Homo sapiens: one gene and its partners. The protein of the gene in region 1 purifies or fractionates together with the protein of each later gene. This does not show direct contact. Each region holds a gene or a part of one and is shown on either strand. Other genes may lie near its edges.

What was found. The genes of interacting proteins can lie anywhere in the genome.
Region 2: the proteins of INAVA (region 1) and DCAF8 purify together in Homo sapiens (affinity purification with mass spectrometry; 2 studies listed by BioGRID and IntAct, with this or other methods). This does not show direct contact.
Region 3: the proteins of INAVA (region 1) and CEP170 purify together in Homo sapiens (co-immunoprecipitation; 4 studies listed by BioGRID and IntAct, with this or other methods). This does not show direct contact.

What each region holds. Positions count from the first base shown.
Region 1 is NC_000001.11:200,897,885-200,904,906, reverse strand, and holds part of INAVA (innate immunity activator protein), read right to left. Parts: intron 6,601-7,022; coding exon of another isoform or gene 6,507-6,600; coding exon 6,452-6,506; intron 5,435-6,451; coding exon 5,310-5,434; intron 4,804-5,309; coding exon 4,687-4,803; intron 3,971-4,686; coding exon 3,748-3,970; intron 1-3,747. UniProt on the Homo sapiens protein: Expressed in peripheral macrophages and intestinal myeloid-derived cells, is required for optimal PRR (pattern recognition receptor)-induced signaling, cytokine secretion, and bacterial clearance.
Region 2 is NC_000001.11:160,259,547-160,267,209, forward strand, and holds the start of DCAF8 (DDB1- and CUL4-associated factor 8), read right to left. Parts: upstream 3,004-7,663; 5' UTR 2,903-3,003; exon of another isoform or gene 2,571-2,902; intron 2,377-2,570; exon of another isoform or gene 2,203-2,376; intron 1,813-2,202; 5' UTR 1,739-1,812; intron 1-1,738. UniProt on the Homo sapiens protein: May function as a substrate receptor for CUL4-DDB1 E3 ubiquitin-protein ligase complex.
Region 3 is NC_000001.11:243,252,279-243,259,674, reverse strand, and holds the start of CEP170 (centrosomal protein of 170 kDa), read left to right. Parts: upstream 1-4,393; 5' UTR 4,394-4,635; exon of another isoform or gene 4,636-6,573; intron 6,574-7,396. Other genes in the region: SDCCAG8 (serologically defined colon cancer antigen 8), read right to left, coding at 3,435-3,501.

The DNA of each region.
Region 1 (7,022 bases):
TTGTTTTAATTTGCTGGGTGTGGTGGCACATGACTGTAGTCCCAGCTACTAGAGGCTGAGGAAGGAAGATCACTTGAGCCCAGGAGTTCAAGGCTGCAGTGAGGTATGATCACACTACTGCACTCCAGCCTGAGCAACAGAACAAGACCCTGTCTCTAAAAAGATTGGAAAAAAAAAAAAAAAGATTCAGGTTTCTGAGAGCTGCTCACTATCTCAGCAACTGTCCCAACCCTGCCCTAGCTCAGCGTTCCCCTGCCCCGCAGCAGCATCGCAGGACACCCCAGACAGAGGGGTAACGGTGGAGATTTTACTCACAAATGCTGAGCTTCCCCCAAGGCTATGCTGTCCAACACAGTTGCCACTAGCCGCATGTGGCTATTTTCATTAAAACTAAATAAAGTCAGTTCCTCAGTCACACTAGGCACAGTTCAAATGCTCCATAGCCACATGCAGCGAGTGGCTACTGTATTGGACAGCACAGATACAGAACACTTCCACCATCTCAGAAATGCTATGAGCGGCCAGGCGCAGTGGCTCACGCCTGTAATCCCACCACTTGGGAGGCCAAGGCGGGAGGATCCCTTGAGGTCAGGAGTTCGAGACTAGCTTGGACAATTTGGTGAAACCCCATCTCTACTAAAAATACAAAAATTAGCTGGGCGTGGCAGCACGCATCTGCAGTCCCAGCTACTCAGGAGGCTGAGGCAGGAGAATCGCTTAAACCCGGTAGGTGGAGGTTGCAGTGAGCTGAGATGGCTCCACTGCACTCCAGCCTGGATGAGAGAGCAAGACTCCGTCTCAAAAAAAAAAAAAAAATGTTATGAGGATGTGGCTAATGGCTGGTGTTGTTGATCAACAGATGCATCCAGAGTGCCTATTACATTGCACAGGTGGGTGCTGGGTGGCCCTCATGCGGTTCACTCTAGTAAATGAGCTCAACACCTGACTGCTCCCTGCCACTGCAAAGTATGGCTGATGACTCTCACCTAGCAGTTACTTTCCCAAACTAAATTACCCTTGTATGGAGCCCAAGGGGGCAGGGTGGTTTTTTATTTCGGTTTTTGGGTTGTTTGCTTTTTTCCCTTTTTTTTTTTTTTTTTTTTGAGACAGAGTTTCGCTCTTGTCACCAGGCTGGAGTGCAATGGTGCAATCTCGGCTCACCGCAACCTCCGCCTCCTGGGTTCAAGTGATTATCCTGCCTTAGCCTCCCGAGTAGCTGGGATTACAGGCATGCGCCACCATGCCTGGCTAATTTTGTATTTTTAGTAGAGATGGGGTTTCTCCATGTTGGTCAGACTGGTCTTGAACTCCCGACCTCAAGTGATCCACCCGCCTCGGCCTCCCAAAGTGCTGGGATTACAGGTGTGAGCCACTGCACCTGGCCTCCTGTTTTTTTGTTTTGTTTTGTTTTTTGTTTTTGAGACAAAGTCTCACTCTGTTGCCAGGCTGGAGTGCAGTGGCACGATCTCGGCTCCCTTGATCCTGGGCTCCACCTCCCAGGTTCAAGGGATTCTCCTGGCTCAGCCTCCCGAGTAGCTGGGACTACAGACATGCACCACCATGTCTGGCTAATTTTTGTATTTTTAGTAGAGATGGGGTTTCACTATGTTGGCCAGGCTGGTCTTGAACTCCTAACCTCATGATCCGCCCACCTTGGCTTCCAAAAGTATTGGGATTACAGGCATGAGCCACAGTGTCCGGCCTTCCCTTTTTAATTCAAAACACCTCAGCTACTAATAATTCTGCTTTACTTCCTCCTTTCTAGGAGGGCTCGGCTGGGCAGAGGAGCCACAAAACAGAAATTACTTGTCTAGAACTGATCCCTTCTGTGCTCTCACAACAGGACTTTAGATCCCAGGGCCTGAAGTTGGCCAGTGGGATCTTGATTCCTGATGTGGGAAAGTCAGCAACTACACCAGTTGTCTCCTCTCCACAGCTCTGTCTTCACCTGTACTGAGGGCTCCAAGGTTTCAGAACCTCATCCTCCTGCCTTCCACAGAGCCCCAGGCCAGTCCTGGCCTGCTCCCGACTCCCAACAAGAAGCATTATGGGTCACAATGGCAGCATCAGGGTGACACTCCCCTGCCACCCATCATGGGCAGAAGCTCCCAGCAATGGCAGCCCCGGTGGGCAGGGGAGGCTGCTGAGCAGTGTGAGGCTGGACCGGGGAGCAGGAGGCGCTGCAACCAACGGGCATATCTCACCACCCTGACCTCTCCCTGCAGGCACAGAGCAAGTTGGCCCTTAGGGGCTTCCATGTCCAATTCAGCAGCTACCTTTCAAGGTTGCTGTCAAGTCCTGGGATCCCTGTTGAGAGTGGAGTAAGGTTGTAGAACTTGTCTTCCATTAGAGCCTCAGAGACTGGGAGTGTTGTTCTGCGGCCAAGCCAGAACCACTGGAACCGGACAGAGGTCTGGCCATTTTCCCTGGGTCAGCCCCACTGTCTTCTGAGTTTACTGGGTTAACTGTCACATGGAGGCACCTCCTCCTTTATCACCTACTCTTGGCTGCGGGAGGTGACCTGGGTGGTGTCTGGTCATGCACTTTCTACCCTAAATTAAAAGCCATGGATAGGAGCAGGGACTTCTGAGACCTGTGCTGAGATAACTCCCTGCCTGAGGCATAGGCTGCAGGGCACAGGGACTAGCAAGGGCTTTCCAGCTTCCCCATGACTGCTCCCAGGCTGAGGAGTAGTCTTGGCAAAAAGCCAACACGATATGCAGGGATGGGAGCCTGAGAATGTGAATGAAGGCCGAGACCTCTGAATCCAATTCTGGATTTTTTTTTGCAGGGCCACGGCCTCATTCCCTCCCGGTTCCCTCTGAGGCAGCCAGGGAGGTCTGGGTCCCATGTGAGAGACGGGGGGCAGAGCTGAGTCATGGGCCTGCTGCGGTGGGGTTTGGAATGGAGAGATGCAAGTCCTGACCTGACAGGCTGGCCTTGGGTCAGGACAAAGGAAAACAGTCACACCTAAGGGCTCAGAACCACCTGTTGGAAGCTAACCTGTGGTGGACACACTGATGTGATGTGGCAGCACCTGGGCATCAACAACTCACTAGGTGCCCCCACGGCCACTAGTCTCTGGGCCAAGGAGCTCAGGGATTGAACTACAGACACAAGGAGGGCAGAGAACAGACATGGAAGGATCCCACCCTTGACCAGGGTGGTTGTAGATACTTAAGGGGCTGTGGGGTGTGGCACCAGTCCTGCTGGATTTCAACCTGAACATCTCCTAAGTAGCTGTGGGCCCCTGAAACAATTCAGTGATCAGTAACACATAGCAATCGTCAAACCCTTTGCTGCCTAACTCAGGCCAGGGGACTACACATCAACTCAGAGCCTTGGGCTCACGGGAGCCTCACACTACCCTGACCCAGAGATGCCATCACCCTGTGGGCCTGGAGGGCAGCGGGGCCAGCCTGGGCTACCCAGTTGAATACACCTTGGATTCAGCTCAGGGTCAGCTGAGAAATATCTCTGTGTAGGAAGTCTCTTGAAGGTAGTGTATTTTGAGGAGGATACGGAAGGAGAGAGTAGGGTGTTTTCTAAGGAGACGGAGAAGAAGACCTCACAGGATGGGGAAGCCTTGCTGGAGTTGGAGAGAATCAGGATGGGGTGGAGCTGAACCCAAGAATCAGCTTTACCCAGCTGGAGCCAAATGCAAAGGCAGTGGCACGGGGCTGTGCGCCCACCATCCCTCAAAAGCTCATTTAAGGAGCATGGCCCCCCTCAGGGCAGCCGGCTCACCTCGGCCCAGGGGGAGAGCAGCAGCCGGAGGTGGCTCGCTATTGCGCCGCCGCTCGACCAGGCAGCGCTGGAGCTCCTGCAGCTTCTTCTCCTCCTGCAGCATGGAGTGCTTCCGCTGCCGCCGAGCCTGCCTGCTGAGGTTCTCCTCCAGGCACAGCCGACGGGCTGCCTCTGTGATCTGCAGCTGCAGGGCCAGCTGGCGCTCCAGGCTGCTTAGGGGGTCCTGAGAGAGGGGGCAGGAGTGAGGCTAGAGAGAGGCAGGGAGATTGGGGGCCCAGAGGGTGGACAGCAGCCCTGACACAGTGCTCTAGGTCCCAGTCCTAAGCCCTGAGGACAGAAGAGAGGCAGACAGCAGCACCAATGGACGGACGTGGAGCAGAGGGTGAAGGAGTGGGAGGAGCCGAAAAGCAAACTTGTCAGCCTGAAAAGCTGGCATGGGCACCCACCCACCAGCCCACCTGCTGAACCGGGCAGGGTGGGAACCCAAGTGGGACACTTTCCCTCCTGACCCCAAAGGGTGGGGCAGGCTGGCCCATGGGAAACTGCTGCCATTGACGCCACAGGGGAAGGGCACCCAGGGCCTGACTGCCCCCACCTCCTCCTGAGAAAGGAGGACAGCCCTAGGGGCCAGAGTAACCTGTCTGAGCAGGCTATTGCCCGCTGGGTTGGTGGCTGGTGCTCTTAACTGATCTTCTGCCCAATGGGGTCAAACCCAGTGTCCTCCCTTGAGCTCCCAGCTCTCGGTTCCTTAGTGGCGCCCCTTCTCCACAGCCATTTGGGCTACATATTCATGGTGTCTCTCACCAACAGGCAGCCAAGCACCCTCACTGGGTGTGAAAGGGTGGAAGGGAACCTGCCAGGGTACTGAGCTGAGGTGTGGCGTCTCAGTGATCAGCTTTGGGGATCGAGGGGTACTGGCAGCTTCCTGAGGTTCCTCACCTCTCTGTGCAAGGCCCAGTCATCCAGTTTGTAAGCCGCTCCGATCCTGCGGCGAACCTTGGGGGCCTTTTCCCCTGGTTTGAGGGGATACTCCGCTGGCAAGGTGCCCGTCAGCTCCTGGGGAGGAAGCAGAGACCAGCCAGGTCCTCTCCACCTGCCCAGACTTGGCTCACTGGCCCCTGCACTGCATGTGCCTGCCTTCCATAGAAGCCCTGGTGGGACCACCCTCCACCCCACCTCATCCCATCCTCCACACTGTCTCTCCTGTCTTCAGACCCACTCTGCACTCCTCCCCTTTCCCTTCAGACCTCTTTCTGATCACTTCCTCCAGAGCTACACCGACCCGGGTTACAGCACTCATATGCACTTATGTCTGTGCAGTCCCTCTGCAGCCCCTGATGAACTTTGTTCTCTGTGCCTGGGCCCCTGCCTGGGTCTGACTCTTCTCCATCCAGCACAAGGTCAAACACTGCATCATGGGGACTCTGGGCCCCAGCCCCCAGCCTGATGTCCAGAATTCCCTCAAGAATGGGGCTCCCTCTCCCCAGCTCCCGCATCCCCACACGTGGCTCCACAGCTCCTGAGATGAACCCGATGCTTGTGTGTGCTGGCTGGGGCCTCACCGCTTCCCGAAGGCAGAGTCTCCTCAGCTCCTCCAGGCAGGCCTCCAGCCTCGCTTCCAGGGCCCTCTGCTGCTTGTGCACTGCATGGGTCAGCTCCTTCATTGGGGAGACCGGGCTGTCGGGGCCTGCAAGGGTTGGGGGGCACATGCTCAGGGAGGCTGAAGATGGAAGCCTCCTCCGTTACTTATTGACCACCCCTAGGGGAATGCACATGCACACACATGCACACACACACACACATCTCATGCCTGCCCACAAATTGCAGGCTGGCTGCTGTGGCCTGTGTCACAGCCACAAAACACCACGTCTCTTGGCTGCACAAATGTTACAACTCAGAAGGGAGGGTCGTCCCACCAGGTGACCTATGGTGGGGGAGTGCAGGGGAGGGAGTTCTGCCGGTGCAGTCCTCCCCCCACTCCTCCTCCCTTCTTCTTCCTCTTTTCCTTCTCCTTCTTCTTCCTGTCTCTCTCTCTCCCTCTCCCCACTACCCCTCTCTCTTGCACACACACATAAGCCTCTTCTTTCTTGTCCTCTGTCAAGACTAGGCCAGACTAGGCCCACAGGTCTGGCCAAACAGAGAGGCAAGACCTTCACATTGGCCAGATGATATATTTTTTTTGAGACGGAGTCTTGCCCTGTCGCCCAGGCTGGAGTGCAATGCCGCGATCTCGGCTCACTGCAACCTCCGCCTCCCAGGTTCAAACGATTCTTCTGCCTCAGCCTCCCACATAGCTGGGACTATGTGGTAGCCAGGATGGTCTCGATCTCCTGACCTTGTGATCCGCCCACCTTGGCCTCCCAAAGTGCTGGGATTACAGGCATGAGCCACTGTGCCTGCCTGAGATTTTTCAACTTCTCAGCTGGGGCTAAAGTTGAACATTGCAGATCCCTCTTCCAGATAGAACCAAAACTCCAAGCCAGTTTTCTCCAGGGAGGAAAACTCCACATGTCCCTGAGGCTCCAGCCCTTCCAGAACCTCCCCCTCCTCCCAGCAGAGGCCTCTCCCTCCCCTTCCTCTCAGCCCTTGGGAGTCTCAGCCCAGCCAGCCCTAGTGCCTGAGGGCTCAGGACTCAGGAGTCAGGGCCAGGGACCAGGGACCAGGGACTAGGGACTAGGGCAGGGGGATTTCCCTGAACACTCACCAGACTGCAGGATGATGCCACTGTCGGTGTCGCTGACCTCATCCTTACTCTCCATGGTGGATTTCTGGAAGGAGAGGGCACAGAGCAGGGAGGGGGGACACCGTGACCAGCCTGGGCCAGGTTGTGTAGGTAGCCTGGAGCTTCCCCAGCTTTAAAGAGAAAAGAGAACAATAACAAAAAAGCTAGATATGAACCATCTTGGTTACAAAAAGCTGAATAGATGCTTGAGAGCAGGGGAGTGGAAGGGAGGACTGTGCTTCAGGAACCATCTGGGGCAGGAGATTCTGGCACTGGGGGTGCTGACCTAGAGAAGGGGCTGTGGGCCTCACCAGCAAACCCTGTTCTCAGTGGGCTCTCAGGGGCCCAGCCTAACTCCCCTCTGGGCCAAAGTCCTCTAGGCCTAAGGGGGTCGACAGCTGTGGTAGCCACAAGAACCGCTCGACTGGGGAGAAGGGCAAGAAGGAAAAGAGCAGAGACAGGATAAAAAGGAAGGGGACAAAAAATGGGATGGGATAACAAAGAAAGGAGGAAGGAAGCCCAGCATGGTGGCTCACGCCTGTAATCCCAGCAT
Region 2 (7,663 bases), about 41 Mb from region 1:
CAAAAAAAACCTCTTCATTCCTAACTCCCCAGCCCTGATTCACTTTTAAAAAAAGAGACCTTTTCCTCATACAGTTCTTTGATAATTTGTTGATGAGGATCACTGTATAGCCCAACAAGAAGGAAAAAATGTATTCCCTTCATGGCAAAAAAGGAAAGTATAAAGAATAGTTGCAGTAGAAGTAAACAACATTGCAGCAGAGAGGGAAAGAATTACAACACGGCCAACTCTGATCAGGTGTGCTAACAGAGAGTCCAAGATGAAGGAACCAATGAACAAAAAAATTTACTGATGTTTAAGAATACATTTTGAAATATACATACACCAATATCTAATATTCTCTGTCCTCTGGTTATGAACCCCCACCAAGGGTTTCATGTTCAGAAGACAACTCTAGGTGGGCACTTACAAAGGACACGTCTAAGCTGACCAATTAAAAATCAGTTGGGAAAATTAACCAGAAAAATGTGTTCTAAGGCAAAATGTAAAAGAAGCATAAATTAACGTATAACTTATTCAAAGCTGTATCAATGATGTGCAAAAAAAAAAAACCAAAAAACAACATTTTTTGAGTGTGTACCACGTGTTCTTAGATTACTAAGAGCTTTAAATAGATTCCCTATAATACTAACAATGACCCTGGGAGGTAAGTGGTATTATCACACTTTTAGAGTTGTGGAAATTAAGAGTCAGAGAAGTTTAAGTAACTTGCTCAAGGTCACATGGCTAAGAAATATTAGTCTAGTATTTAAACCTTAAAATTAAATTAAAAGTCTGTCCAATCTCTAAAGACTGTACTTTTCTCTTTATATCTTACTGATACACATATACACCATCACTAATAATTTTATTCCAGTCCATGATGAGCATTTTCTAATTCAGTCATCAGATGGAATAAAACTCACCAGTGTCACTCAATATTTTCCTACTACAAATCATAAAGATATTAGGAATTGGCCAGGCCTACCTTCCAGTCACTTAGCTTTTCTGTCACATGCCATGAGCCTCTAGTCTCTGCTACCAGAAACCTGAAAGCCTCACGAAAACTGCATTTATAAGTATGTTCTGACTCCCTTTTTGGCACCAACCCATGCTGCTGAATGCCCAGGATGTTTCTTCTGCTAACCAAGAATTCTTCAGACCAGCTACAAAAGAAAGAGCAGCCACTATTTTTTTTTTTTTTTTACAAAAAATTTCCCACTATATCCTAAAAAGTCGGAATTCTGAAATAGACTGGACTCAGACACCAACTAAAGGCAGCATCACTCATCACTCCCCAGCTTTTAGTCACAAGCAGCTAAATATTCTCCTCTAAATACCAAGGGATGACAACCCGAAGCTGTGAGAGGGGAAGAGACCTGATTTGACAACAGGATGAACAGAACTCAGGCAAACTAAGTTCCAGTTTTTAACAACGTAAAAAATATGATCGACACAAAGACAAAATACAAGGAAAATGAATAAAGAAGAAAAGAAGACATGGGGCAGGGGGCACACATTCACTTCTAGGCTTAAGTCATTTGGAGATACACAGCAATAGTTTAGGACAGAAAGACAAGAAGCCCACAGACAATTAAACTTGTAAAAGTAATTCAACCAGAGCTGGAACAAAGCCAAGAACAACACTCAAGCTCTTTGGGAAACTGGTAGGAATTTTATGACTTTAGTGGTCAGCAGTTGAGCATCAGCGCAGTCTGTCTTGAACTCAAGAATTTTAATGCCTCCAACTCCCACTCACCTTTCCTCCTTTTATCACTGAAGTAAGGCCAGGCTGAGCTCCTGAGAAAATAGGTCTGTAGATTCACTGAAGGACTGAGAAAAGTTAAAATTTACATGGCAAAGGTGTGTCTTCTACTGAACATAATAAAAATATTTATGAATACACTTTAGTATTTTTAGGCCTTCTCAAAACTACTTAAAAGCAGAATACTTTATCTAATTCTAATTACTGAACAAATAACCCACACACATATGGAAATAAAATGAACCAACATGAAGATTAGAAGCCAGGCAAGTAATCTCCCAGCTCCACTAAAACGTAAAGTCATTTAAAAGGATAACCTGAATCTTTTCAACGCTAAACCATAACCAAACAACCTCTCAACAAGAAGCCACAGAGCAGGGGGGGAAATCCCGGAGAGAATGTGATAGCGCTAGTGCCGGTTTGTTTACAGAGACTCCAGTAACAATCATGAGTCAGAAATTCAAGCCACCAGATGCTTTCCAACTAACAGGGACCAAATGGGACCGTTCTAAGATATCCTAAAAGATTTGGGAGTTAGAGGAGGTAAACTAAGATAATTATATTACAAAGGGTACAAGACCACAAGACAACAACCGACTCCGGAATTCTTGGACCTCCGCCTTCCGTACAAGGTGCTGGGCCTGGGAACTTGGGATGGGGGAGGGGGACACATTGCGCGGTGGCCCTGAGGTGACGGGGAGACGCAGGGCGAGCCGTGTCCCTCAATCTAAGGGGAGAAATAGGAGCGCACACATGGGTCACCCAACGAAGCAAGGCGTCCCTGTGAACTGTGCGGCTGGCTCTTGGGGGCAACACCAGGGCTGACCTGAGGAAAGGGCAACCAGTACTCCCAGCGATGACTTCGGGTCGGCGGAAGGAAAAGACCTGAGCGCTAAGAGCTTGGGATACGGGTCAGGCCCATCCTTAGGGGAAACCGGCTGGGAAGCGAGGGGGGGCGCAGGCCGAGCCGGAACGAGACACAGACCGGGTAGGTCAAGGGAGGGGGGGTGTCCGGCTGGGGCAGTTACAAGCACGGGAATCGGCGAGGCTCAGCAGCCCGCTTCCCGTCTTGGGTCATCCTTCTGCTAGCGGCTGCTCCGACTGTTCCAGGCCCAGCCGCCCCGTCCACTGCCACCACCAACGCCGCCGCCATCTTACACTGGCCAGCGGCCGCCACCACCACCGCCTCCGCTCTCTGCGCTTGCGCCTGCGCTGCCACGCTTTCCGGCCCCGTTTGCGACGATGTGCTCGAGAAGACTGAGGGAAGAGTGGTCGCGCGAGCTCACGGCTCGCAACCCTCCTCGAAGGACGCACAAGGGGCGGGGCTTAAGGCCAACGGAAAACAGAGCGAGAGGCGCCTGCGCATTACCGAAGAGGCAAAGTTGTTTTTGTAGTTTCTTCGGGCTTGCTTATCTTGTGATACTCTAAACAAATGCGAGTTAGGGGCTACCCAGAGTTGTGATAGAAATAAACTAAATTTCCAGCGGATTGGCAGGCCACTTCCTGGATGATGGCCAGTTTTGCCGTTTTTGAACACTGGAACGAGCAATGATTGCCACAAGGATTTCTTCTGAAAATCCCCGTTTCCTTTCAGGGCTTTGTTTCCTTAAGTGGTTTCTATACTATCGAGGCCCATTTTCCCCTGAGAGTCCCCATTTACGTATTTTTAAAGAAGGGGCTCAGTAGCTTGAGGTGTAGCTATTCCAGAAGCTCTTTTCTGAAGAGAGGTGGTGTGGGTAAAGGTTCCCAAGAGTGGGCCGGGTGATGTGGGGTGACTTTTGTACTCTGTTTCGTTATGACACCTACAGTAACCCTGCAGAGGATTACTCCCAGCTGCCAGGCTGGGGTATTTTTTTTTTTTTTCTTACCAGAAGCCCAGGGTGCAAAAATCTGACCCTTTCTCACCTCCCCTACCGCTACTCTCCTATTCCAAGTCATTACATATTACTTAAGACTACCGCAATAGAAACTTACCTCGTTTGTCTACTTCCATTATTGCCATTACAGTTAAACATAAGGCAGCCAGAGTGCTTTTTAAAAATGTAAGGTCTGGCCGGGCGCGGTGGCTCATGCCTGTAATCCTAGCACTTTGGGAGGCGGATGTGGGCGGATCACTTGAGGTCAGGAGTTCGAAACTCGTTTGAAACCAGGCCAACATGGTGAAACCCGTCTCTACGAAAAATACAAAAAAAAAAAAAAATTACCCGGCATGGTGGAGCGCGCCTGCAATCCCAGCTACTTGGGAGGCTGAGGCAGGAGAATTGCTTGAACCCGGAGGCGGAGGTTGCAGTGAGCTGAGATCGCACCACTGCACTCCAGGCTGGGCAATGGAATGAGACTCCGTCTCAAAAAAAAAGTAATGTCGTATTATTTCCCCAGTCCCCACCCTGCTCAAAACCTCCAATTCCCATCACATAATAAAAGTCAAAAGTATGATAGCCTTAGAGGCCATCAAAAAATGAATTGCCTCTAAGGAGGACCCTACATGATCTGATCTAGCACCTGCCTATTTATCTGATTCATCTCCTCCCACACTGCCTAGCTCTGCTCTAGCCTCACTAGCCTTACTGTCACTCCAGTCAAAGCATGTCCCAGCCCTAGGGTTTTTTTCCTTTTCTTGGAATGTCCATCTACTAGATATTTACTAGACTTGAGGTGTCTATTGAAATCCTACTTCCTAACACAGGCAGCTCTTGACTATTGTAACTAAAATGGAACCTCATGTCATCCTCCTCTATCCCCTTACTCTGCACTGTTTTTTTAATAACATTTTTTACCTATAACATTTAATCTAAAATTATGTTTGTGATCCAGCTATACTACTAGAATATAAATTCTTGAGGGCAAGGACTGTGTTTTTATCATCTTTGTAATCTCAACACCTAGAAGAGGGCTACAGCACAAAGTAGCTATTTAATGCCCCACCGTCCTATTCATTCTTTCATTCATTCAGTCAACAACTATTGAATTCCTGCTCTGGAAGGCCCTGTTCTATGTGCTGGGGCTGCAACAGTGAATAGAACCAAGATTCTTGCATTCATGGAACTTATTAGTGCAAGGGTTGGGAGCATAGGAGGAGGGGAGAGACACACAGATAATAAAGTTATAAAGAGTACTGTAAAGGAAAATAAAGCAGAATAAAAATGGGTTACCTGGATGGGTGTGCTCTTTTACATAGGGGATTCAGAGAAGGCCCCTCTGCTGAGGTGACATCTAAATAAAGGTTTGAAGTGAGACAATAAGCTATACATACTTGGGAAAGAATATTTCAAGCAGAAGAAACAACAAGGTAAAGACCCTGCAGCTTGAGTGTGCTTGGCAAGGAAGCCACTGTGGCAAAAGAATAGATAGGAACTTAGTTTGGAGAAACAAGATGGGAGCCAGATCACTTACGGACTTATGGACCAAAGAAAGGACTTTGAATTTTATCCTAAGAATGCTAGGAAGCCATGGAGGGTTTTGAGTAGAAGAGTGGCATGATCTGATTTATAATTGAAGATGTTCACTCTGGTTATTCTTTGAGAATTCCCTATAGGGAAGCCAAATAGAAGCTAAAAGACCAGTTAGGAAGCTATTGCAGAAGACCTGCAAAACTAGTGTTGCAATGAAATTGGTAGGATTCAGGATGTACTCTGAAAGTGGTGGAGAGGTGATGTGTTAATAGATTGAATGTGGGGTACAAGATAAAGACAAGAATAAAAAATCAGTAAAAAAGTACAAAAGTCAAAGTACAAAAATCAGTTTGATTTGAGTAACTGGATAAATAGTGATGTCGTTTACTGAGAGCGCATGTGAGGAGACAGGAGCAAGGTTTTTTTTGGCGGGGGGGAATGTCCAATTTTACTTCAAACATATTAAACTGGAGATCCCTATTAGATTTCCGAATGGAGCTACTGAGTAAACAATTGGAAATATGAACCTGGGGCTCATACAAGGGACAATGAGAGGTATAAATTAAGGATTAATTAAGTTATAAATGGCATACATAGCCATGGGGTGGAGAGAAATCAATGTGGAAGCAAAGAGAAGCAGTTTAAAGACTGAGACCTCTAATCCTGAGGCATTCCAACTAATAAAGGTCAGAGAGGAGGAACATACAGCAAAATTTATTTAAAAAGAGTAGCCAGGAAATAGGAAGAATAAAACTCAAAAGTGAGGGGTCTTATAAAACAAACCAAAAAAAAAAAGCTTCAAGAAGGGGCTATAATCTCCATCATTCCTGTCATAAAACAGGTTAAGATAACTGGAAATTGACCATCGGACTTGGAAAATGGAGGATTAGACCATGGCAAGTCATCTTAGTGGAAGCTATAGGGATAGAGGCCTCCCTTTCTATGATCTGCTTTTTGTACCCACTGTTTTGTGGACACCATGGTTATTACCACCAAATCAATAGCTATTACCACTGAATTCTCCCTTTCTTATTTGGGCTTTCCTATTGAATTTGAGGTTGTGATGATTATTATCCCTTGTGTATCCATCTTGTGACAGATACTCAATCCCACTGGTTTCCGTAACACTATATTCCACGGTTTTGTTTTTATCTCTCTAATCATTTATTTAATTAGCTTCTCTTCCCCTTCATTCTACATGTTCTTTCAGTGATTGTATCCATTCTCACATTTAAACTACTGTCCAGGGCCGGGCGCAGTGGGTCACGTCTGTAATTCCAGCACTTTGGAAGGCCAAGGTGGGCAGATTGTTTGAGCTCAGGACCAGCCTGGGCAACATGGCGAAACCTCATCTCTACAAAAAATACAAAAATTAGCAGGGAGTGGTGGTGTGCACCAGCTACTCAGGAGGCTGAGGTAGGAAGATCTCTTGAGCCTGGGAGGCAGAGGTTGCAGTGAACTGAGGTCACACCACTGCACTCCAGCCTGGATGACAGAGTGAGACCCTGTCTCCAAAAAAAAGAAAAACTACCATCCACGTAATGATGACTTCCAAGTCTTTTATTTTTATTTTTTATTTTTTTATTTTTTAGAAACTGATGTTTATTTTCCATCAACCATTTTTCCATGTTGCTTAAGAGCCCATGCAAGAACAGCTTAAGACCATTCAGTGGTTGCTCCTACCCATTCAGTGGCCTGAGCAGTGGGAGCTGCAGACCAGTATTCCGTGGCAGGCTGAGTGCTCCATTGTTCAGTAGGAACTGCTGAATAGGCACAGAGGGCACCTGTATACCTTCAAACCAGTCTGCAACCTCAGGCTGAGTAGCAGTGAACTCAGGAGCTGGAGCAGACCATTCACCCTGAAATTCCTCCTTGGTCACTGCCTTTTCAGCAGCAGCCTGCTCTTCTTTTTCAATCTCTTCAGGATCTCTGTAGAAGCAGAGATCAGGCATGACCTCCCATGGGTGTTCACGGGAAATGGTGCCACGCATGCACAGTACTTCCCGAGCCAGCATCCACCACATCAAACCCACTCAGTGAGCTCCCTTGTTGTTGCACGGGATGGCAATGTCCACATAGCGCAGAGGAGAATCTGTGTTACACAGAGCGATGGTAGGTAGATTAACATAAGATGCCTCTGTGAGAGGCTGATGGTCAGCCCCTGGGGTCAGTAACCATAAGAAGCCATGGCTCCCAGAAGGCTGCCTGGATCTGGTTAGTGAAGGTTCCAGGAGTGAAGTGGCCAGCAATTGGAGTGGCTCCAGTGGCAGCAGCAAACTTCAGCACAGCCCTCTGGCCAGTATTCCTGGAGGATATAACACTGACATCAGCAGGGTTTTCAATGGCAACAATAGCACGAGCTGCCAGCAGAAGCTTCTCCCAGGTTCCCTTCAGATTTATGATGTAGATGCCATCACTTTTCCTTTTATAGATATACTGTTCCATCTGTAAGTCAAGATTGGTGCCACCTAAGTGGGTTCCTGCTGCAAGGAACTTAAGGACATCCTCCTCCTTCATTTGCAGGACA
Region 3 (7,396 bases), about 42 Mb from region 1:
GCTCATTTTGTATTTTTAGTAGAGACAGGGTTTCTCCATATTGCTCAGGCTGTTCTCGAACTCCAGACGTCAGGTGATCTGCCCGCCTCGGCCTCCCAAAGTGCTGGGATTACAGGCGTGAGCCACCGCGCCCAACCTCATTTTAAAAACAAGAAAGTAAATGCTGACTCAGTTTTCACATTAGAACTTCAAATTTTGATATACCATAATAGTACCAACATTAAAGAAATAAGGAAATTTGTTTTTGTTTTTGTTTTTGTTGTTTTTTGAGACAGAGTCTCGCTCTGTCGCCCAGGCTGGAGTGCAGTGGCGCGATCTCGGCTCACTGCAAGCTCCACCTCCTGGGTTCATGCCATTCTCCTGCCTCAGCCTCCTGAGTAGCTGGGACTACAGGCGCCCGCCACCACGCCCGGCTAGTTTTTTGTATTTTTTTTTTTAGTACAGACGGGGTTTCACCGTGTTAGCCAGGCTGGTCTCCCATCTCCTGACCTCGTGATCCGCCCGCCCCAGCCTCCCAAAGTGCTGGGATTACAGGCGTGAGCCACCACGCCCGGCCCCAGGAAAAGATCTTTTTAAAATGGAAGTACGATCACGGAAAATAGGGAAAGCATTTTGCATTTTTATGCGGCCACTTCCTGGCTGAATATCAATGAAGGGATATTAGTAGTGACTACATGTGCAGTTATTTACAAGCTAGAGGAAAAACCGGTGAGGAAAGACCAAGACTGTTTATTAGGCTTCCATTAATCATAAACTACGCAAGGCATTTGGGGAAGTAATGGTGGGTAGACAAAACCAAACAAACCAACAAAACCAAAACAAAATAAGACATAGAACTTTAAACTGCATTTTATCTTACTACATAGTAATACAATTCTTAAATTATTAGGCACACTCAAAATAAGGAATTTCCACATAACTCCAGCATTGTTTATTAAGGAACAGAATACTTTACTTTAAAGGGAATTATCAGCCGGGCGCGGTGGCTCACGCCTATAACCCCAGACTTTGGGAGGCTGAAGTGGGCGGATCACTTAAGGTCAGGAGTTCTAGAGCAGCCTGACCAACATGGCGAAACCCAGTCTCTACTAAAAATACAAAAATTAGCCGGGCATGGTGGCGCGTGCCTGTAATCCCAGCTACTTGGGAGGCTGAGGCTGGAGAGTTGCTTGAATCCAGGAGGCAGAGGCTGCAGTGAGCCGAGATGGCACCACTGCATTTCAGCCTGGATGACAGAGTGAGACTCCATCTCTAAATAAATAAATTATACTACTCAAAAATAGCAATTTATATTTGTGAAGAACTTCTGACTGTACTTAAGTTCAGAGTTAATTCTGTTTTGTTTCCTTCCAGAAGCTGTTATATAAGCTAACATACAAAAATAAAAGTGCTACTAAATAAATGATATGTCCTGAAAAACCCATAAACATTTCAGGTTACATTTCCTGATTCACTGTTAAAATTATGAATACGTTTTTTTTTAAGTTGTTTAACTTTTTCTATCCTTCGTATTTGCTCTTGGTGAAATGTTTCCACTACCTTATATTGTTATCACACTAAATTTAAATTTTATTTCAAACTAATTTTAAAATGTATTATCCTTAAATGAAAACCCTTCATTCTGTAATTATTGAAAGCAGTACCACTAGTATTAAACATATTACTATAACATTAATTTAAAATGAACCCCTTTACTGCGTCAAAATGCCTAATGTTAAACAGCCTCCGACAATTATATAAAGACTTAAAATAAGGTCAAAGGAAGAGAAGCATCAGGAAAAACTTTCAATGAAAACAAAAAATTTTTGCCAATCTTAAAAATTACAATTACTCATATCATTGTGCACAGTATTTTTCTTGCTTCCAAATGAAAAGTTAGAAGTGCTTATTTTGTATCTAACAGCTCTTGAAACATCAGTAGGTTGAGGAAGGTGTTCATTAAAACCGATTTTTTTACTCCTGCAGTTTGAATACTGAGAATGTCGACAGTTTGTTAACACAATTGACAGATGTAACAATACATAGTAACCCTTATAAAATCTAGAGTCATGAGAAGATAAACTTTCTAATATTGAAAAACCTTCACTTTGCTTTAAGTAACAAGTATAAATAACAATTAACATTTAATGAGTGCTTGTCTAGTAAGCACTGATCTTTACCCTTACTTTCTATCATAGTAATCTATAATTATTTTTTTTTTTTGTCTTTCTCCCCAACTAATCCAGAAGCTCCATGGGGATAGGAACTTTGTCTTGTTCCTTACTGCATGCCTAGCACCTAGTATGCTTAACACATAGTAGGAGGCACTGACACATAGTAGGCATATTATGCAGAACAACACATGCTTCATAACTTAGTATTCTCAATGTCGCAAACAGTCATGACCTAGAGGCTTATGAAAATGCAACAGAATAGAAAGCAGAGTTTATTACATTTAGTAGAATAAAAATTCTTCAGTGAAACTTATAGTTTATATGTACACATATGTCCCATATAAAATTTATTTCTTACTATAGGTAAACATTTTAAGAAGTCTTAAAATCACTGCTTTATGGGGATTATTTCATTTGCTCCCCACAATAACCCTATGGACAATTCCATAACTTCCATTATAACAGAATCGAAATTTCTAGATGTTATATATGCTGTCCAAGTTGACAGCGCCATCTAAAAGTACAGACATTAAGTCCAACAGAGCTTAAAGGAAAATAAATACAGACATTATTTGTACAGATACTTGCTCATATGGTAATGTGGTAAGAAAATCTAAATTAATAAGGTTTTGATAATAGTAATTATGGCTTGATTAGTAAATACAAACATAGGCTTTGAAGGCAAGCCTGATAATACCTGGCTCTGCAACTAACCAGCTGTGTGGGCTCTGGCCTGTAATTCAACCTCTCTGAGCTTCGCTTTCCCCATGTGTAAAATATTCACACGATTGGTGTAAGCTGCAGATGATTTACTGTATGTAAATAGCCTAAATCAATTAAAAGGGGGCTCTTGTGATTAAAATAATTATTAGTGTTTCCCCCCACTGATCCCATAAATCACATTCAATCCACTGTGCCATAATTTAAATGTGTAAAAACTGTGAATCAGACTTTTATTGGATTAAATAGCAACGTATGGGAACTGAACAAAAATGGCATAGAGCTATCCAAGAGTTTCTGCTGTCGCCGGTTGAGAAAGATGCCAAGTTAAGATCAAGGAGTTGATTGAGGTAACTACGGGAATCTGAGGAAACATCGTTGCTTAACTGTAAAAACTAAATCAAACTATTTCATCCTCCTCAAGACCACAGCAACATCCATCTTGCTCCTCTGTAGCGTGGACGGGGCAGAACCCAGGTGTTAGGAAACGCACCTGGTCTGCTCCCGCCCACTAGGCCCTGGGCACCTCGGGGCTAGGGACAGAGGTTTGGAGCAACTCACCCCGGAGACTCCGTTGATACTGCCCCAGAATCTCCTCCAGGGTAGAGTTCTCCGGGGACTTCGCCATGCACGCACTCTAGGCCCAGAGCTGGGAGTTACGTGGGGAAATGTCCAGCTTTCTCCCTTCCGAGAACAACAGGCCTGTGGCCGGGGAGCGCCCGCCTGCTTCCTGCCGCGGCTGTCACAGGGGAGCCTAGAATCCCGCACAGAGCTCTTGGGGGCTCTTCCCACCCACTGGCCCTCGCTTTGCACGTCGGGAGTTGTAGTCCTCACGTTCAGAACCTGCAAGCTCGACAATCCTCAGGGCCTTCCAGTTACACTACAATTCCCAGAAACCACTGCGCTCCAGGCGCTAGCTTGGACGGTTTGGCTGCCAGAGCCTGCTGCCAAGAGACAGGCTTGCAGGCCCCGCCCTTTTCCTCCAGCCCAGCCTGGTTTAGTCCCGCCTCCATCCCACTCTTCAGCTGCCTGGACCACCCAAATGACAGAAAGGGCTCACTGAAGGCCTTGACGCTTCGAAATTTGCTAATATGCAGCAGTTGATCCCCAGGCTACTCAAGGACGCAGATAGTAAACTCTGAACCCTGCTTCAGTTGCGAGATTTTTTAAAACGGTCGAATAAATCTTCAAGAAATAGAAGCTCTAAATCTTCCAAACAGCCTAGATTGTAAAGGCGGCCGACACTACAACTCCTAGCATGCCCAGCAACCGGACCTTCACTTGGAGTTGGCGCTCTGCCCGCTGGGAACTGTAGTCCTTGTTGGTTGCGGTCCCACCTAACGCCGAGGTCCTCTTCATTGTTCAAGCTGGTCTTTCGGGGCACGCCTGCGCAGTGGGCAAGCTGGAAAAGCGTGTGGGTGAGACCCTCGCACAACCCCTTTTCATTGTCTGTGTGTGGCGCCTGCGCAGTAAGGGATCGTTGGAACTGGGCAGGAGGGGATAGGGTCCGGCTCCTCGCCCTTTCCCGAGGCGCCTGCGCACTAGGCAGTCGGTCTTTGCCGTTACCGCTATGTGTGGGGCGTGTGTGGAATAACGTTATTGCCCAGCGGAGCTGAGGGCCCCGGAGCTCGACCGCAGCGGCAGCGACGACAACAGCGGCGACGACGACGACGACGAGGTGGGGGGAGGACGGCGTGCGAGAGACTCACGGGACGCGACGCGCCCCGCCTCCCCCGTCCGGTCCCTCTCTCCACGGTAAGGGGTAAGTGATGCGATCGGCTGCTCGGTGTAGGCGCCGCAGCCGCAGCCACCGCCGCGGCTGCTTTCCACATCCTGCTCCTCGGGTTTGCGGCGAGGACTCGGGCGCCGCCCGCCGCGGGGCGGGGGTGCGGGGCTGGACCGCGAAGGGGGCGCTTCCCGGGTGCTCCGCGCGGCGCCGCCACCCCCACCCTCTGCCCGCCTGGGACCCGGGGCTTGACGGGACCACCCTTCCCATCCCCCACCCGCCGCCCCCCGGAGCTCCAGTCCTGCGGCCCCCCGGCTTTCCCGAGCCCCTTGCTGCCGCCTCCGCATCCCCTAAGTGCATTGAATCATTTTCAGCTTTCGACTGGCTTTGTGCAGCCCTCCCCCCTCCGCCGTAGCAGTTTGCGAGGGGTGCGGGCGGAGCATTGGAGGGAATGGCTGCGCTGCCGCTGGGGAAGGGATTTTTCCCCCATTGGAGCAGCTCCCCGGGCCAATCCCTTTTGTGTGATTGGTTTTGGGGTGTGAGGCGGTTGGCGAGGTCAGGCGAGCAACCTTTTGGACGCGTTGGGAGGGCGTGGAAGACGCGGTGTCATGCACCCTGCCTGGCGACTGCACCCCGTGGAGGCTCTGGCTCTGTAGTAAACCCGGGGGAGGAGAGAGTGGCTTCCTGTCGGCTTCATTGTCCTAGGATTCAGATGTAGGGTTTTGGTACGTTTCGCTTCCATTTTATGCAAGCGATGAAAAAATAACATTTGCAGCTGCCTAACACAGGGCGGGAAGACGTGGGATTTGTATACTAAGTCACAGAATCTCTGTTCGGTGGTGTTTCGTAGAGTTTTATTTATTTATTTATTTATTTATTTATTTATTTTGAGGAATGTAAGGAAGACAGGGACTATGCCTGCTGGAGTCCAAGCACTGCCAAGGTGATCAATATAAAATTACTAGGTGACGTTGGAGCCTGGGCTAGAGAGGGCCTGACAACGAAGCTGTTGTGTCAGGGAAATGAACAAGCAGAATTGTTTTTTCATTGGGCAGGTAATGCATTTATGTTCCTGAGGGAATGGATACATCTTTCCGTTTATTTTTTAAGCAAGTAAAACAAACAAAACAACTGGCCCAGTACATTTCTGTTACCGAAGTTGTTAACTCATTTTTATTCTCTTAATGAAAATTCAGCCATTTGGGAGGAATTTGGCGAAGCAGATGATACATTTGATTGAAAATGCATATTTTAAAATGATTTAATCCTTAAGCTTACAATGTATGCAGCCGTTTGCTGGCGTTGCTTCTTAAAACACACCAGAAGAGAGAATAAAGCAGGATGGGGAGGAGCAGGTGGAGGAATAATGGGAGAGGAGAGAGTGACATTATGACTATAGTATCTGGATCTTCACTGGTATAACCCTAACTGGGTATGCTTCAGAGACTTAGGAATTCAGCTCTGGAAACAGTACACTGATGAATAGCAACTTATGTATTTTTCTGTTATTATTTTTTAAAAAGTAAAACTAGGGCTGCCTTTAGCTCTTCCTAACTTTGTAGATAACACGGAAGAGCCCAAGTGCACTTGACAGAGGAAGACACTAAAACTCAGAAAGTTAACTGACTTGTCTGCCCAAGCCAGACAGTTAATCGAAGGCAGAGCCAAACGAAACTCAAGGTCCATTCTGCAGAGTGATCTTTCCTGTGTCCCCCTAGCCCTTTTACCTTGTGAAAATGTATGGAAAGCTTCTCTATGTGCTCCCTGAGTAGGCTGTGACTATCACTGAACTTGATTCTCACCGTGATTAATCTAGTTCTTGCCTTTGTGATGTAAAAGTAGTAATCCTCCTAAAATGGACCTTTACTTTCATAAAGTAACTTACTACATGAGGAAAGATGTCCTAACATGTGCTTTTCATAAAAACGAAGTGTTGCAGTGTTTTCCCTACTACCTAATGGTAGCTACTTAACGGTAGGTTTTAATATTATTTCTTGAAAATCAATAGTATTTTATAATAGTATGATGATCAACTCTATAGGCTGTGTTAAAAATAAAATTTCCGCATAACAAGAACCTATGATGTTTATTTTGCCACAGTTAATGAGTTGTAATCATTAATGAGTTATTAGTGATTACTTTTAACTTAAACTAGAATTTACATTTTAAGATATATTAACTTTATGTTTTTTATTGGGTTGATTTTGCCATAAAGTGCTTTTTTCTTCCCTTATAATTTTAATCGTTTAATTTTACGTTGCATTTTAATAGACTTCTTTAAAGGATTTATTATTTATCTTAAATTTCAACTTTAAAAATCTGTAACTAAATTTCAGTATGTGGGATTATATTCAATCATGCTTTAAATGTATTTTACTGGTAAATTTCATTGTGTTCTGAGATTATTTTGTATGGAAATAATCTGCCTGTTCCCTATTTTAACATTAGAATAGTGAAATTTATACTGTAAACCTTAGCATACATTCTGCATATTAATGCTGTTATGGTACTTTTTAAAATTCTGTGCTTCGTGATTTATTTGATTTGTTCCAAGTATCAGTTTCTTGTTCCTTTTTATCTACTGAAAAAAAGAACTAGTTTTATTATTGTATCTGATTGCAATTAGATAATGCTCATCTAGTACTAAATATTGTATATGCTTAAGCTTTTTTGTCAAAATGTTTTTTATTCCACAAAATTGTATTCCTGAAAAATATTTTTTCTATACTAATTAATAGGTAAAGACTTTTCTTTCTTATCTGTCCCAAACACTGGGATGTTAAGCAGTGTACTCTTC